3 separate regions of the Homo sapiens genome follow, and all the other regions are reported to be linked to region 2. The links are microRNA targets in miRTarBase. Many come from high-throughput screens and were not tested one by one. Region 2 holds a microRNA gene; each other region holds the end of a gene's coding sequence.

Region 1 (5,343 bases), not on the chromosome of region 2:
TATTTGTTTATATCCCCTACAGATGGACATTTTTGCTGTTTCCAGTTATTCTTATATATACATATTATATATGTAATGTGTAAAATGATGATGGGATAAAGCTATTTGTGTGTACATGTAATTATTCTATTAGGGTAAATTCCCCTAAATGGGATTACTGGGTAAAAGGATCAAAAGTCCTAAGGTTCCTGCTACATATTGCCAAATTGCCCTTCATAAAAGTGGTTATCAATCTGTAGTTCCAGCAAACAATACGTAAAATGTGTTGGTATGCTTATAAAAAAGCTTTTAACTCCCAACAACTCATTTCTTCCTTGTAGAAATTAACATGTTTATTGTAAAAAGAAAATAAGCATTATATAAAAGTACAAAGTTTAAAAATCATTCAAAAGTTCATCAGCCAGAAAGAAGTACTATCTGGTGAACTTCATTCATTCCAACCATCTCTCTTAATCATACAGGCACATATATACAAATAGTTTTACAAAAGTGGGCTCATATGCTATATTTAACAAATATAGCAAATTAACAAAAGGAAAACAAGTGTGAAACTGAAAAAATGCTCAATTTAAATACTTTTTTCCCCACAAGAGAATCTAGTCTTGTAAGATTTCTCCTAAAATTAAGGACAATTACGGAAAACAATAAAGAGGCTATTTTTTTTTCTAGCTTCATGTATGTTTTAATTAGAGACTGTACGTGATTCCTGCTATGAAAGATGAAACCAGCACACTCTACTTGTTATTTCTATATAGACAGTGTTCATAATATTTGACTTTATAATCATTGCCCATTATTTTTAAAGTTTCTGAAGTGTTTACTAACACTCCTTTTACTGATTCTTTGTTCCTAAGTCCTTAATTTGATTCATTTCTTCTTTAGTTGAATTTCATTATTGGGCGGTTTTTTCCCAAAGACTCATGATTTGTACTTTTAAGTTCTTACAAACTTGAGAACATCTATAGCCTTTGTATTTTAAGACAACTTTGGCAAAGTATAAAATTCCTGGCACTTTTTCTCAAACCTTTGGAGCCTTTTGCTTCATTGCCTTCTTGTTATAAGATCTGAGACCATCCTGACCCCATTTAATTCTTTTTTCTTTTTGAGACGGAGTCTCACTCTGTTGCCCAGGCTGGAGTGCAATGGCGCGATCTCGGCTCACTGAAAGCTCCGCCTCCCGGATTCACGCCATTCTCCTGCCTCAGCCTCCCTAGTAGCTCTACCCGCCAGCACACCCAGCTAATTTTTTGTATTTTTAGTAGAGACGGGTTTCACTGTGTTAGCCTGGATGGTCTCGATCTCCTGACCTCATGATCCGTCTGCCTCGGCCTCCCAAAGTGCTGGGATTACAGGCGTGAGCCACCGCACCCGGCCAATTCTTTTTAAACCATCAGAATATTTCTTTATTCTACATATTTCTCTTTTCCATTTTTTATTTCCTCCAGCCTATTTTCTCTGTGCTGTTTTATGTTTTGTGGTTTCTAGTATAAGGCCTTTAAACTCCACCAATCTTATTTTTCATCTCTTAATCTCTTTTGAACTTTTTTTTTTTAAAGAGATCATGTCTGCTGTCTTTTTTGAGCAGGTGGAGAATTTCTGTCACATTAACCTTTTTGAGGGAGTGGGCAATCTGTGATCGTTCTTTTCTAAATAATGCTTATTTAAACTTCGGTCTACTGAAGAATAACAAACAGGAAGAGGTTAGAGGAATGAGCTTGAAGTTGGGTTGTTAATATTGGAACCCTCTCACCAAACCCATTCTTCTTCTTCTTTTTTTTTTTTTTTTGAGATGGAGTTTCGCTCTTTTTGCCCAGGCTGAAGTGCAGTGGCACGATCTCAGCTCACCGCATCCTCTGCCTCCCAGGTTCAAGCGATTCTCCTGCCTCAGCCTCCCAAGTAACTGGGATTACAGGCATGCGCCACCATGCCCGGCTAATTTTGTATTTTTTAGTAGAGACAGGGTTTCTCCATGTTGGCCAGGCTGGTCTCAAACTCCCGACCTCAGGTGATCTGCCCGCCTCGGCCTCCCAAAGTGCTGGGATTACAGGCGTGAGCCACCGCACCTGGCCAAAAATGCATTATTTCTTTTGCCCCTTGGAACACATCTCCCTTACTTTCTTAGTATTAAAAGGCGATTGTGCCCTATGGCAAAGCTTTTAAGTCAGTGTATTTCAAATTATTGGAAGTGAAATCGATTAAGTGGTTTCATCCAATATTAAAAACTGTTAACAAGTAGGAAACACCAGAATTCACTTTGCATAGTAAGTATTCTTTCCTGAAATTTGTCTCAGTACAGAATACAGATGTGTACAGAGGTAAGATGTAAAATACGTTTTTAAAATGTATGCTGTAGTCAAAAAGTTTAAAATGCTTCATCCATAGGCAAGCACATAGATGACAGAAAGAGCCTTACAGCAAGGTTTGTCCTCAAGCTCCATCTCCTGTGTAATTTTATCAAAACGATATCTACAGACATGCAACATGTCTTACTCTTACCTCCTTCTTCTAATTAAAGAATAGGGACATTCTCTTTCCTGCTATTGATTGGCTGTGGTACCTCAATTTTGGTCCACATATTACCATATGTCTAAACAAGTATGTTTTAATGTTTGTTTAGGGAGGTTTATTTCTGTTACTAAAATTTATTGGGCTTTGTGCGTGGGTTTATTTTTACTTTAAAACATATTTTAAGACAAAGTTTTATTTTAAGAGTGTACTGGATGACAGCTTGGTTGGTCCATGGGTCATTTCTGTCCATGCCAGAAGACATTTCTTTCTACCTAGATCACTTTCATAAAGAAATAACTGCTATGACACTGTAATACATTTACGTACAGATGCTTATATTTAATCTTAAAAGGTAGTCCTATATAGTTCTATCAGAAACCGTAAGAGCTCTTTCAGACCACTTTTATTAACTCAGGTATTACGAAAGGAACCATTGAAGAATATGAAAGCTCAAATAAGATTAAAAAATGCTTTAATACTGCTGAAGTCTTTCAATTCTAGAGCAGGCATAGAATATATAGAATGTTTACCTTATGACCAGATACAACCTCCCAAGAAAAACTGGATCCTGCAGGGCAGCTGGTCTTCACAGTTCCTGCTGGGACTACAGTTGCAGAAGTCATTCCATCACTTTTCTCTTTTTAAGGGAGTTAAGTACAGGTAAAGGAACTCTTCTAGCAAAGATCTTAATAATCTCTTGATTATCGATGTCCGTGGAGGCTTTTTAGTCCTTCCTTTGCTTCTGCATTCTTGACCCTTGGCTTCTTTCACTCACTCTCTCCTAATTCTCCTGTCTTTCTGAATGGGCCATTCCAGTTTTCAATAGGTGACTTCTATTTCTTCCTGTGTTGGTGTTGCCTATGGTTCTGTTGTGTGCATTTCTGATATATATTAACACTCTGGGAAGTCTTATTGACAGATTCCACCATTACTTAAACATTGTCAATTCTGGCCTAGATCGCTATGTTAAACTCTGGTCCCTATCTCCAACTTTATGGGCTTTTGTTTTTAGCTATACCATAGCTGTCTCAAATTAAACTTGTTAAACTGAATGCATCATTTTCATTACTACCACCATCCTCTAATTCTCTGCCCCTCTAAAAGCTGTCTCTTCCTGCTGTATTTTCTGACTTTGTGAATGGCACGACTGTCTAGCAATTTAGGTCAAAACCATGACTAATATTAGATACTTTCCTCTCCATCAAATCTTTTTCAATCCCGTTACCCTACTGCTACTGACTAGGCCTGGATAATGTCAATGCTTATATGATAAAGGCTGGATACCTTAACCTGGATTTCAAGCTTGTGGGCAAGAACAAATGAAACTATGAAAAAATGGGCTGTATAAAGGGTATTAAGTGCTGCTCTCTGTTGAACTGTTTGATGAAACTGGCTTTAATGATCCAGAAGCAGCCTTACATTTGAATGCATTCTATTCTTTCAAAACTGCTACAAACCAGTTTTCATGTTTATTACCACTTGCTGCTGCTGGAAAAAAGTTAGGAGCAACTATGTTTTACTCCTTTGATCTTTGAATAACAGCAGCAGCACAAATCCCAGGATTCTCAAAGCAGTTCCAACCACAACAAACCAAAAACTAAACTACAGCGAAATGGGAAACAGGTGTGTCCGGTTTAATAAAAAGGGAAAGGGTCATCAGGTGGCCACAGCCTTTCCTTGTCAGTCATATCCCCAACCTCCAGATCCTTTATACTCTCATAAGTTTGAATACAGTCAAGGTTAGTTGGGTCAAAAACTGATGTTGATTATGATTAAAAAGATACAAAACTCAGCACCTCCTTCATTAAAAATAAAGGTTGAGAAACTTGATAAGAAAAAAACTAAAATATTCTTATAGCTGCCTGGGGGAGATCTTAATCCTTCCACATACAGATATCCTTATATCCACAGGAGGCCATGTGGACTAAAACCAAACTGAGTCCATTACTCATTCCCTCTCCGGCTCTTCTTGTGGCTCTTCTTAGACCTGAAATGGCAACACATATAAATAATTATATTAAGAAGCAGCCAGGCACGGTGGCTCACGCCTGTAATCCCAGCACTTTGGGATGCCAAGGTAGGCAGATCACCTGAGGTCAGGAATTCGAGACCAGCCTGGCCAACATGGTGAAACCCTGTCTCTACTAAAAGTACAAAAATTAGCCGAGCATGGCGGCGGGCACCTGTAATCCCAGCTACTCAGGAGGCTGGGACAGGAGAATTGCTTGAACCCGGGAGGTGGAGGTTGCTGTGAGCCGAGATTGGGCCATTGCACTCCAGCCTCAATGACAGAGTGAGACTCCATCTCAAAAAAAAAAAAGGAGTCCTGAGAAAGACCTTGGTATGCTGACATTGATGGGGATGGAGCTGACACTCAATATTCATTAAACTGCTTGGTATTTTTTTGACTCAGAGCAACACTCTTGAGTCAGGCATTACTATCCAAATTTTACCATTGAGGAAATGACCTCTTAGAGGTTAAGAGTACACCAAACAGGCCCGGCGCGGTGGCTCATGCCTGTAATCCCAGCACTTTGGGAGACCGAGGTGGGCGGATCACAAGGTCAGATTGAGACCATCCTGGCTAAAATGGTGAAACCCCGTCTCTACTAAAAATATAAAAAATTAGCCAAGGGTGGTGGCGGGCACCTGTATTCCCAGCTACTCGAGAAGCTGAGGCAGGAGAATGGCGTGAGCCCAGGAGGTGGAGCTTGCAGTGAGCCGAGATTGCGCCACTGCACTCCAGCCTGGGAGACAGAGCGAGACTCCGTCTCAAAAAAAAAAAAAAAAAAAAAAAAAAAAGAGTGCACCCAACGGTATATGGCACATGGGGGT
Region 2 (5,343 bases):
CCATGTGAAAAGTGTCCTCATGTGCTGGCCACGCTGCCTATGGCACAGCTAATGTCCAGTGTTACTGCAGGGCCTGGCTAATGTCCAGAGGCCACTGTGAATCCAAACACCTGTGTGAGATGTGAACTGGCTTCACATTTCACACTCTTTCTTATTTGACCTGGTCAGTCACACCATTGTGACTGACAGAGAGGGGTTGCCACATGGCTAGATCCCAAGTGCCCCAAGAAGCCCTCACTGAGCTTCAAGGGACACTCTCCATCCCCTAACCCTCCATACCAGGGAAGCATCCCCAGACATGGCTGCTTCCTGGGGCCTCCAACTGCCAGGATGTGGGTCCTGACTGCTATCTATGTGGCCTCCCAAAGTGGCTGTGTGGAGCCACTTGGGGGTGTTCAGCTGGGCCTGTCAGGTTCTTTCCCTGCCTTCGCCACCTCCCCCCTTCCCCAAATTCCCAGAAAGAAACAGGACAGGAGCCAAGGGCTGGAACTTTATTATTGTCACAGAGCACAGGAGAGACCGCTTGGGTCTCAATGAAGGTTTGCTTTTCCTCTTCTCCAGGGGAAGCTACTGCAAGAAGGCCCACCAGCCAGGCTAGGTCAAATGGGGTTGGGGCCACAACATGATAGTTAAACCCATAAACACAGACTTGATTCGATCCCAGCTTCACGACTTCTTAGCTGTGTGACCTTAGGTAAGTCTGTTAACCTCTCTCAGCCTTGGCTTTGTGGAGTGGAGTGAAGAGCAGGGCCTGCTTCACTGGGGTGTTATCAGGATGGAGGGGGACAAGGCCTATGAAAGTGTTTAGCACAGCGCCTGGCAGATCGTGACCAGTCACGGAGTGGAAGCTATCATGATCAAATCTGATTTCTCCACGGTCAGGCCAGCCCTGTCACTACGGATGAGGAAGAGGGGGTCTCATTTCATAAATGCCTTCAATGCGGCCTGTGAGAAAGACAGCTTGGGACACCTGTGTGAGCTGCCTAGTCTCTGGCAATGTGGGAGTCGGACCCAAACATGAGGGTTCTGGGGCCTTGGCACTTACTACCATTTCTACATCTCCATGAAAAGCCCTAGCAAGAGTACGGGGAAAGTTCTAATTTTTTTTTTTTTGAGACAGAGTTTCGCTTTTGTCCCCCACGCTGGAGTGCAGTGGCGCGATCTCAGCTCACTGCAACCTCTGCCTCCCGGGTCCAAGCAATTCTCCTGCCTCAGCCTCCTGAGTAGCTGAGATTATAGGTGGCCACCACCATGCCCAGCTAATTTTTTGTATTTTTAGTAGAGACGGGGTTTTGCCATGTTGGGCAGGCCGGTCTTGAACTCCTGACCTCGTGATCCACCCGCCTGGGCCTCCCAAAGTGTTGGGATTACAGGTGTGAGCCACCGCGCCCGGCCGGAAAGTTCTGATTTTGCACCTGGATTACATTAGGTCTTCTGTCATTCAGTTAGTTAGCATTCTCTATAGGCAGTCAGAGAGGCTGACTTTTAAAATTATTTAGGTATTTTTTAGAGACAGGGTCTCCCTATCTTGCTCAGGCTGGAGTGCATTGGCTATTCACAGGCACAATCATAGCTCTCTGCAGCCAGGAACTCCCAAGCTCAAGTGGTCCTCCCCCGTCGGCCTCCTCAGTAGCTGGGACTGTAGGCACTCACCACTGTGCCTGACTTTTTATTTTTGTAGATTTTGCTTTTGGCTAAGAAATTGCCATAGGCCATTGGACTTGAAATCAGCGCTGGCCCTGCCTTTTGCTGTCTGGGCGACCTTGGGCTGGCCACTTTACCTCTCTGAGCCTCACTGATCCCACAGATCTACGTAAGGAGGGCTTTGAGGATGAACCAGCCTGTGGAAGTAAATGAGAGGAAGTGATGGGGGCATTGCTGGTGGTGCAACAATGGAGAGGGTTTCAGTAGTCACTGGCTCAAAAGTGAGGGGGCAAAAGGAACCTCAGTGTGTGTGTGTGTGTGTGTGTGTGTGTGTGTGTGTCCAACGTCTTGTAGCAAGGTTAGCAATCACCATGTGTAGGGGAAGAGCCATAGTGTTCCTAGGGTGGGTAGAGATGCCACAAGAGGGCGTTCTGAGTTTTCATCTTCTCTACCTTGAAAAATTTTCCATTTGTTCTCTGGCTGCATTCCAAATCGAACGAAGACTTAAGGTTTTTAGTTTACCTAACTGATTGAATACACTTTTAAAATGAATTCATGTGTGTTTACTAGTTTATCAGTCATGTGGATGCAATACCGCAGCCCCTGTCGCAAGGCGCGTTGGGAAGTGGGTTGAGGGTGTGGTGGAGACAAGAAACGCATGCCTGATGGTGTCCTGGTTCAACCGCTGCTCAGCCGGGTGGCCTTGGACAAATTTCCCAAGAGTACGGCAGTGCTGAAGTTCCCACATCCAGCCTCACAGGGATGTTATGAAATAGACACGATGGAAAGAAAAGCAACGCAAAGGTTTGGAACATGGTTCATAAGCCCTCTTACCTCCAGGGACAGCCTTCTTCTTGAACCCTCATCCTGTGAGCCAGCCGAGGCCCCATTGGGGGGCAACTGTGGGGTGGGAAGGAGGCAAATCCAGCTGTGAAACCATGACCTCAAGAACAGTATTTCCAGGAATCCCCATCTTAGCATCTAAGGGATTCCTGGGAAAACTGGACCGTGAGGACAAGGTGGGAGCGAGTGGCCTTCAGCGCCAAGGCCGCCGTGTCCCTAAGGACCAGCTGGAGTTCTCTTCTGCATCCAGCCCCATCTGTAGCAGCCAGGGTGGGGTGCCACACGTCGCCGGATGTGGCTTATTGCTCTGGGGGGGAGTAGTGACCGGAACTTCAATTGCCCTGAAAAGTACCGGAAACCCTCTGGCGCCCCCACCCCCAGGACTGCCCTCTGCTGTCTGCACGGCTCATGTGTATTCCCCAGTCTCCTGCCAGAGGGGTGGATTTAAACCAACCATTCAGTTCCTAGCCTGGGTTTGGCAACTTCCTCTCTGATAACCTCCAGTAAGTCACTTAACCCCTGAGCCTTGGCCTTCTTTAATTATAAAATGCATGAGTCCACGACCTACTGGAGAGGTGAGATGAATAAGATTGGGGGAAGGGGGTAGGAGGAAGGAAGCCTGTAGTATTAATGGCAAGTGTCCGGGTCTGTCTTTGCTAAAAGTGACCTGAGATGTAAAGACAAGATGGGAGCAGAATTTAGAATGTTCTCCTCCTGCTCCTCGGTCCCAGGTTCCATAATCACATGCAATGGGTAAAAACATGGATTTGAAGGCAGATTAGGGTACAATCTCAGCTCAGCACAATCAATATGTGACTTTAGGTGAGCTGCTTAAATAAGCCTCAGTTTTTCTCATCTGTAAAATGGGGCTATAACACCACCCACTTCCCAAGCTTTTGGGGAGGTTAAATGAGACTGTGCTTGGCTCCATGGCTCTCCTCTGCTGCTCATTGTGCTTCTGAAGCCTCTGGGAGAAGTCAGACATTTGTGACGTGCCTGGACTGGTTTCGGCAATACCCCGGAGCCAAGGTTAGAAGTACAGAGTGAAGACCCTGACTCAAAGGCCAGAATTTTTATCTTCAGGGCTGAAAGGGTTTTTAGGAATTGTTTGATCCACAAATGATGAATGAGTTTCAGCTGTGAATCAGTACTAGTGGCTTTCCAGGGCTCATTGTTGAGGATTCTGAAGCTGCATCTGAGCACTTCAAGAATGGATGCCTGGCGGGGCGTGGAGGCTCATGCCTGTAATCCCAGCACTTTGGGAGGCCGAGGCGGGCAGATCACCTGAAGTCAGGAGTTTGAGACCAGCCTGGCCAACATAGTGAAACCCCATCTCTACTAAAAATACAAAAATTAGCCAGGTGTGGTGGCGCACACCTGTAATCTCAGCTACTTGGGAGGCTGAGGCACGAGAATTGCTTGACCCTGGGAGGAGGAGGTTGCAGTGAGCTGAGATTATGCCACTGCACTCCAGCCTGGGTGATGGAGTGAGACTGTGTCTCAAAAAAAAAAGAATATATGCCTTTACTGATTAGCTGTGTCTGCCATGGGCTCAGAAAGAGAAAGCAGAGGCAGGGTGCTGGGGAAATGCTAACGCCTCATGCTAAGATGGACACACTGGGGTACACAGAGGAGTCAGGACATGCCCAGACTCGTGAAGCAGATCGTGGCACCAGGGGAACTTGTGTAGAGGAACTTCCCCAGCATCACAAGTGGCTGATAGTATGGAGTCTGGAAACACTCTGTCCTTCCTGTTATGGCCCCCCACAACCCCCCAGCACTTACCACTTCCAGGCTGATGGCTGCAGAACAACTTCTCTCTTCCTGAGCTACAGTGCTTCATCTCAGACTCCCAACTGACCAGAGATGCAGCACTGCACCTCAGGCTGGGAGACAGGGCGCTGCGCTGCTCCGCTCTGGTGGCCTGTGGCGGGACTCCAACCTGGCCAGGAGAAGGGGTGTTAGAGGGGACCTGGGCTCCACCTCTCCAGCTCTGGCCGGGAGGCTGTTGTAATTCCTCACAACTGTGTTTCCTGTCTGTGGCCTGCCATTTGAGCACCCAGGACCAAACCTTGACCTTTTTTCTCTTCTTTTCTTTGTTTCTTTCCTTTTCTTGTCAAGAACAGCTTAATTTAGAAGGAGGACATTTAGTGAGTACAATTAACAGGTTTTTAATATATTCACAAAGTTGTGCAAACAATGGCACAATATATTTTAGGTTATTTCACCATCCAAAAAAGAAGCTCCTTATCCTTAGACAACCCCTAGTCCTGGGCAGACCAGTTTCTATCTCTATAGATCTGTCTATATATTTTCTGGATATTTCAATACATGGAATTATTTAATATGTTGACCTACCTTTTGATGCCATGCCCCACCTTTATGCTTGGCGCATTCCAGCCTAACAGCATCATTCATGGTACTTAACATTTTATATCATCGAGCAATCAATTGTCTCCAACCTATCTTTCTTCTGCCACTCCTCCTCTCTTCCCAGCCATCTTCCCATAATGATTTTTCAAGATGCAAATATGCTCATATCTTACTCAAGTTTAATATCCCAAAAGGGCTCCCCATTGCCCTCAGGCTGAATTCTGAAGCCCTTCCCAAAGCCTGCGAGGGTCTGCCGCATCTAGCCCCAGTGACCTCTTCCTCTTGGGCTACAGCTCATAGATGTCCTTCCATTCTCCTAGGGAGCCCTGTGCCCACCCACTTCGGGCTCCCAGGGACTGTGCTGCTCCCCGTCACTCTCCCTGCCCATCTCTTCCTCCTGTGCTAGGTCTCTAATCAAGTGGCCACTCTGGGAAACCCTCCTTGACTTTTTTTTTTTTTTGAGACAGAGTCTCCCTCTGTCGC
Region 3 (5,000 bases), not on the chromosome of region 2:
GGAGTCTCCCTCTGTCGCCAGGCTAGAGTGCAGCTGCACGATCGTGGCTCACTGCAACCTCCACCTCCCGAGTTCAAGTGATTCTCCTGCCTCAGCCTCCCCAGTAGCTGGGACTACAAGGTGTGTGCCACCACGCCCAGCTAATTTTTGTATTTTTAGCATCAGGGTTTCACCATGTTGCCAGGACAGTCTCGATCTCTTACATCGTGATCCACCCACCTCGGCCTCCCAAAGTGCTGGGATTACAGGGATGAGCCACCGCACCTGGCCATTAATTATTTATTTCTTTAGAGGCAGAATTTCACTCTGACACCCAGGCTGGCGTGTAATGGCACTGTCATGGCTCACAGCAGCCTTGAATTCCTAGGTATCCATGAAAGCCTCCCAAGTAGTGGAGACTGTAGTGGGTCACGCCACCACGACCAGTTAATTTTTTAAATTTTTTTGTAGAGATGGGGTCTTGTTATGGTCTGGAAATCCAGCACTCAAGTGATCCTCCTGCCTTGGCCTCCCAAAGTGCTGGGATAAGTGTGAACCACTGTACTCAGCCAGTAACTTATTTTTAAATTGTAACTCCAGGACACTAGGGTATGCTTGGACTTTCTATGACAGAAACTTAAGAAAATTCAAGACTGCAAACGTGGTAACTTTAATCAGTTTTCAATGAACAGTCATTCACTATGAAGATGATAAGCTATACTTATAGATTGTCTTATTTAATCTCAATACACAAAATAGCAATGTTACAGAACTTAAAAATTAAAGTTTCTTTATAATTAGTGGTACTTATCAAATATTTTATGTAAGTTTTTTTACAGTTCTTTGTAACTCACCATTATTAAGACATACACTTAGAATTGTTTCTTCTGTCCTAAAGGTTCAAAATAATGTTCCCAACCTTCCTTTCTGGCCTCAACTGTTGTTACACTACTTTCCTTCTGTACCTCAAATTACTTGCCTTTCTCTGACTTTGTATGCAGTAGTGACTCTACCCCTAAAGTCCTACCCTATTATTCTATTGCTTTAAAGCCCCAGGAAATGTCACTTTATCCATGAAAGCCCTCCAGGTCCCCTCAGGAATGATTCTTTATCTTTGCACCCATATCTCTATATCATTTACCCAAAGCTTCTTTTATACTGTTTATTAATAATATATAGTACTAATTGGGGTTTTTTGAGGACTAGAATAGAATTTTGTTTATTCTTATTTTGCTTTGCTTTAGTCCTTCCTAACGCCTAGAACAGTGACTTGAACAAAGTAGAGGTTCCATATTTTCATTGCGTGAATAAAGGAATGTTGGTATACAACTGTTGATAATCTCTAATTCCCAGCCAACTGTAGCCAATGGCACTTATTACTGAGATAATTAACTGCAATGCAGCTTATGGCCAAGAAAGAGTATTTTCACTGTGAATATAGCTCAAAAAAATCAAATCTATGATTTAAAATTTTAAGACCATGATCCAATAAAACAACTATGTATATGTGAAGTTGATACAAAGAACTAACCATCTTGAATCTAAAGGAAAATACATAAAACTGTATCGTGGATATCAATGGTAGATAGAAATGATATTCTGTCAGTTTTCTTACAATAACTGAACAATCACATGAATATACCTTTTCTGGAAGATGTTCATTAAATGTTAAATCATCAAGGGTTAAAACTAAACTTCATTTGATGCTCGCCAAGAAGACATTAAACAAATCATGACAGATTAACAATTTCAACTTCTATAGATTTTTTAAGATTCTTTTTGATTACACAAGGTCAGCTGCCTCATAAAATTCTGTTAGATGTCTTTGGGCTTCCTACATTGCTTCCATCTAAAGGTTGCTTCAATTTCTCAGCCTAGACTTTTACAAAGCCTGTAGATTGTTTGTCTTTTGTGTTTTCTAAGTGCCTGATAATTAAAATTTCAATTTAATGCTAATGAGAGTCAGAAGTAGAATTATCTATACAAATCAAAATTAAGGTGAAAATCAACCATGAACCGTAATTCCCAAGTCTCTGTCTACACTCCTATGCCTTTACTTAGCCTGGGTTCTAGAAGAAAATCCTCACCTACTTACTACACATTTCTACTTTAAGTACCTCAAGTTTACCATGCCCAGATCAAACTCCCTGAAACTAGCCCTCCTTCTCCATCCAATTTTCCCACCTCTGTTAATTAGTTCATCATTCTCTCAGTCACTGAGGGCATATATGATGGTAGCTTTTGACCATCGCTTCTCATTCACCTTTTCATTTTTTGCCACATAATTGTAAAGATTCATTCTTCAAAAGGTCTCTTATTTCTACAGTGAACCCATGTCGTTCCCATGTAGCCAACATCGTTTCCTTTGGAAAACTACCCTTTTCTTATTTGAAATGAGGTTGTGAAGCACAATAACTCACCCCATCCCCACTGAGAAACCAGCATGTTACCTGTGGCCTGTCAGTTCATGGTGTCTCATCTCCTTGGTAAATGCCATTGGTCAAAGGGGTAGGTTTATACTGCAGTGGAAGCAATCAGAATTTCCTTCTTGGAATTCATAATTAGATATTATAATAAATGCTCCCTCTACTAGAATTGCTAATCTAGAAATAAGTGAATTTGCAACTACTAGCAGCATCTTCCCAGCTATCTGCAGGGAGTCTATTTACAGTAGAAAGAGATCAAACCAGAGAATGCATGAGAGCCAATATGGAAAGGCAGAGAGTTTTGACATTGTTTAGTCCCTGGAGCCAGCCACGCTCAAAGTCTACGCCATCCCTGGAATTGCCAGTTAGATGAGTCCAATTTCAAAATTCAGACTCTACAACTTTCTACCTAGGTGAACTTGGACAAGCTACTTAACCTTTCTGTGCCTCACTTACCTCATCTATAAAATGGAAGGTACTATTAGTACCTACCTCACAGGGTTATATGAGAATTGGCATTGTAAATGCTCAATAAATGTTAGCAATAACCGTCAAGTGCCAGTGAATTCTAATGTTTGATCTTTGAATTGGGGTCCTGTCACAGCAGAAAGAGTACAGATGAGAGGGCTTTGATTTTAAAAACATGCTTGGAGTTCATTCTTCCCCCGCCTTTGCGTTATGGTCACCCCCATGAGATTCCTGAGCAACATTTCAGCTGGCTTGTCTGACCACTTCTTCACTCTCTACAATCCACCTGAATCACTAGTGTGAGGGCCATCTGCACTAAACATCACTGTCATCATGGAATGTCCTGGCTCCAGTTTCTGTTCATATTCCTCTTCCTGATTTCCCAGGTCCCACTTTCATTGTCCAATGAACGACCTCTCTCCCCAGCATTCTGGTCGGCCTCATATCCTGCCTTTCACGAGATCATGCCTTGCCAATTTGTATCCTTCTGCCTTTCCTTCAGTCATCACCCTCATCATCCCATCTTTTTTTCCCTCGAGATAATCAGCTGCAATCATTCCTCCATGCAAGTTCTGCCCCCTCCAGGATATCTCCCCTGGCCATTGTGGCTTTCACTGCTTTTATTCTCCTTGGCATTCCAAGTCATGTTAAATTCTGTAACATGCAATCAGAGATTATCCCATATTGTTTCAGATGGGTGTAACCCAACTAGAATGTGAAGTTTTTAGGTTAGATTTTTTGGCATGTCCCCAAACTCAGCAATAAGCACACAATCAGCCTCAAAATAAATATTTTGTATAGGGTCTAACCATAACACTAACCATTCCTCTTTTTTTTTTTTTTTTTTTTTTGTGAGATCAAGTCTCGCTCTGTCGCCCAGGCTGGAGTGCCGTGGGGCGACCTCAGCTCACTGCAACCTCCACCTCCTGGGTTCAGGTGATCCTTGTGCCTCAGCCTCCAGAGTAGTGGGTATTACAGATGTGTGCCATCACGCCCAGCTAATTTTTGTATTTTTAGTAGAGATGGGGTTTCACCATGTTGGCCAGGCTGTCTCGAACCCCCAACCTCAGGTGATCTGCCCGCCTCAGCCTCCCAAAGTGCTGGAATTACAGGTGTGAGCCACCGTGCCCAGCCCTTCCTATTACTTAAATTTGGTAGTTTTGAGAGAATTTGTTTCAGAGTAACACAACTTTTACTGCAGTTACCTAATCTTGATGCAAAAACTCAATTCTGAGAAGCACACAAATACTTAAATGACAAAATAAGGCAAATTTAAGACAGTTACATGTCTTTATTACATAAACATCATAATATTTCTCATAGGAGTTGGTCTTCAGTTTGCTTGTTGCTTTCGCAGAATGTCAAATATCTATAGAAAATGTCTAATTATTTATGAACAAACATTCCCATCCCTGCCCCGCAAAAAATCTCATTGCCTGCAATTCCTAACCAGATTCCTGAGAAAAATAATAGGATTTATTTTATAGCATCATACATAGATTTTCTTTCAAGATATAAAAAAGGACAGACTTCTAAAACATGAATCTCCTTTCGTTTACAAAGTTCTATAAAAATACATTAAGTATGTTCAAATGTTTGTTCTTTCACTTTATATTCCAGTTTACCAGAAACAAAAAATGGCAGTACATAAAGATATGTAAACCACATTAATCTTGCAGTAATATAATGTCAACATCATCATGAACACCTTGCAGAAGCAGCTCTCCTGGATATGTTACAATCTTCCTTCGTTTTGCAGCTTTAAGAGTTCCTACCAATGCTTCAAAGAGGTTGGCACATTTATCATCACGGAAGAGGACCCCAAATTTCACGCTTAACTTTCCATCAGCATCTAGTTTGAGAAAATACATTGTTAGCAAATGCAAAGTCTGTTTCATACCCTCAAGTATGGAAGACTTACAAAATCTTTAATAAATTTATAACTATGGGCTATCCAAGGTTGCAATTTAACACTTAACAGTCATAAATTCAACATATTCTCTTCCCTGATCCAAAAAGTAATGGAATAAATACATGCTATATGCCTCTTGGCCTTAGGATTATCCAGACAAAGACTGAGAACCAACATTTACAAAAGTTGAATGTGCTACAGTGCTAATACTGCAG

What was found. The annotated mature microRNA hsa-miR-145-3p reads GGAUUCCUGGAAAUACUGUUCU and lies in region 2 at 2,592-2,613, opposite strand. An mRNA with a match to its seed (bases 2 to 7 or 8) in the 3' UTR can be bound and repressed. Matches are read on the target gene's strand: a 7mer-m8 pairs with bases 2 to 8, a 7mer-A1 pairs with bases 2 to 7 and ends in A, and an 8mer does both.
Region 1: the mRNA of PRPF38A is a reported target of hsa-miR-145-3p. Seed matches in the 3' UTR shown: 8mer at 701-708.
Region 3: miRTarBase lists ABRACL as a target of hsa-miR-145-3p. Seed matches in the 3' UTR shown: 7mer-m8 at 4,326-4,332.

Annotation. Positions count from the first base shown.
Region 1 is chr1:52,415,800-52,421,142 of GRCh38, reverse strand. It overlaps PRPF38A (pre-mRNA processing factor 38A), which reads right to left. Exons shown (of 10, transcript NM_032864.4): 10 at 307-4,495. The coding sequence ends at 4,453. Among named protein-coding and RNA genes, the nearest start is that of PRPF38A, 14 kb to the right of the region's middle. RefSeq lists a silencer at 3,992-4,286.
Region 2 is chr5:149,427,969-149,433,311 of GRCh38, reverse strand. MIR145 (microRNA 145) reads right to left here and starts at 2,666; the gene lies at 2,579-2,666. It overlaps CARMN (cardiac mesoderm enhancer-associated non-coding RNA), which reads right to left. Exons shown (of 5, transcript NR_105060.1): 4 at 4,273-4,429; 5 at 476-594. It overlaps MIR143 (microRNA 143), which reads right to left and starts at 4,394; the gene lies at 4,289-4,394. RefSeq lists enhancers at 1-15, 2,032-2,326.
Region 3 is chr6:139,042,444-139,047,443 of GRCh38, reverse strand. ABRACL (ABRA C-terminal like) reads right to left here. Exons shown (of 3, transcript NM_021243.3): 3 at 4,142-4,725. The coding sequence ends at 4,541. Among named protein-coding and RNA genes, the nearest start is that of ABRACL, 16 kb to the right of the region's middle.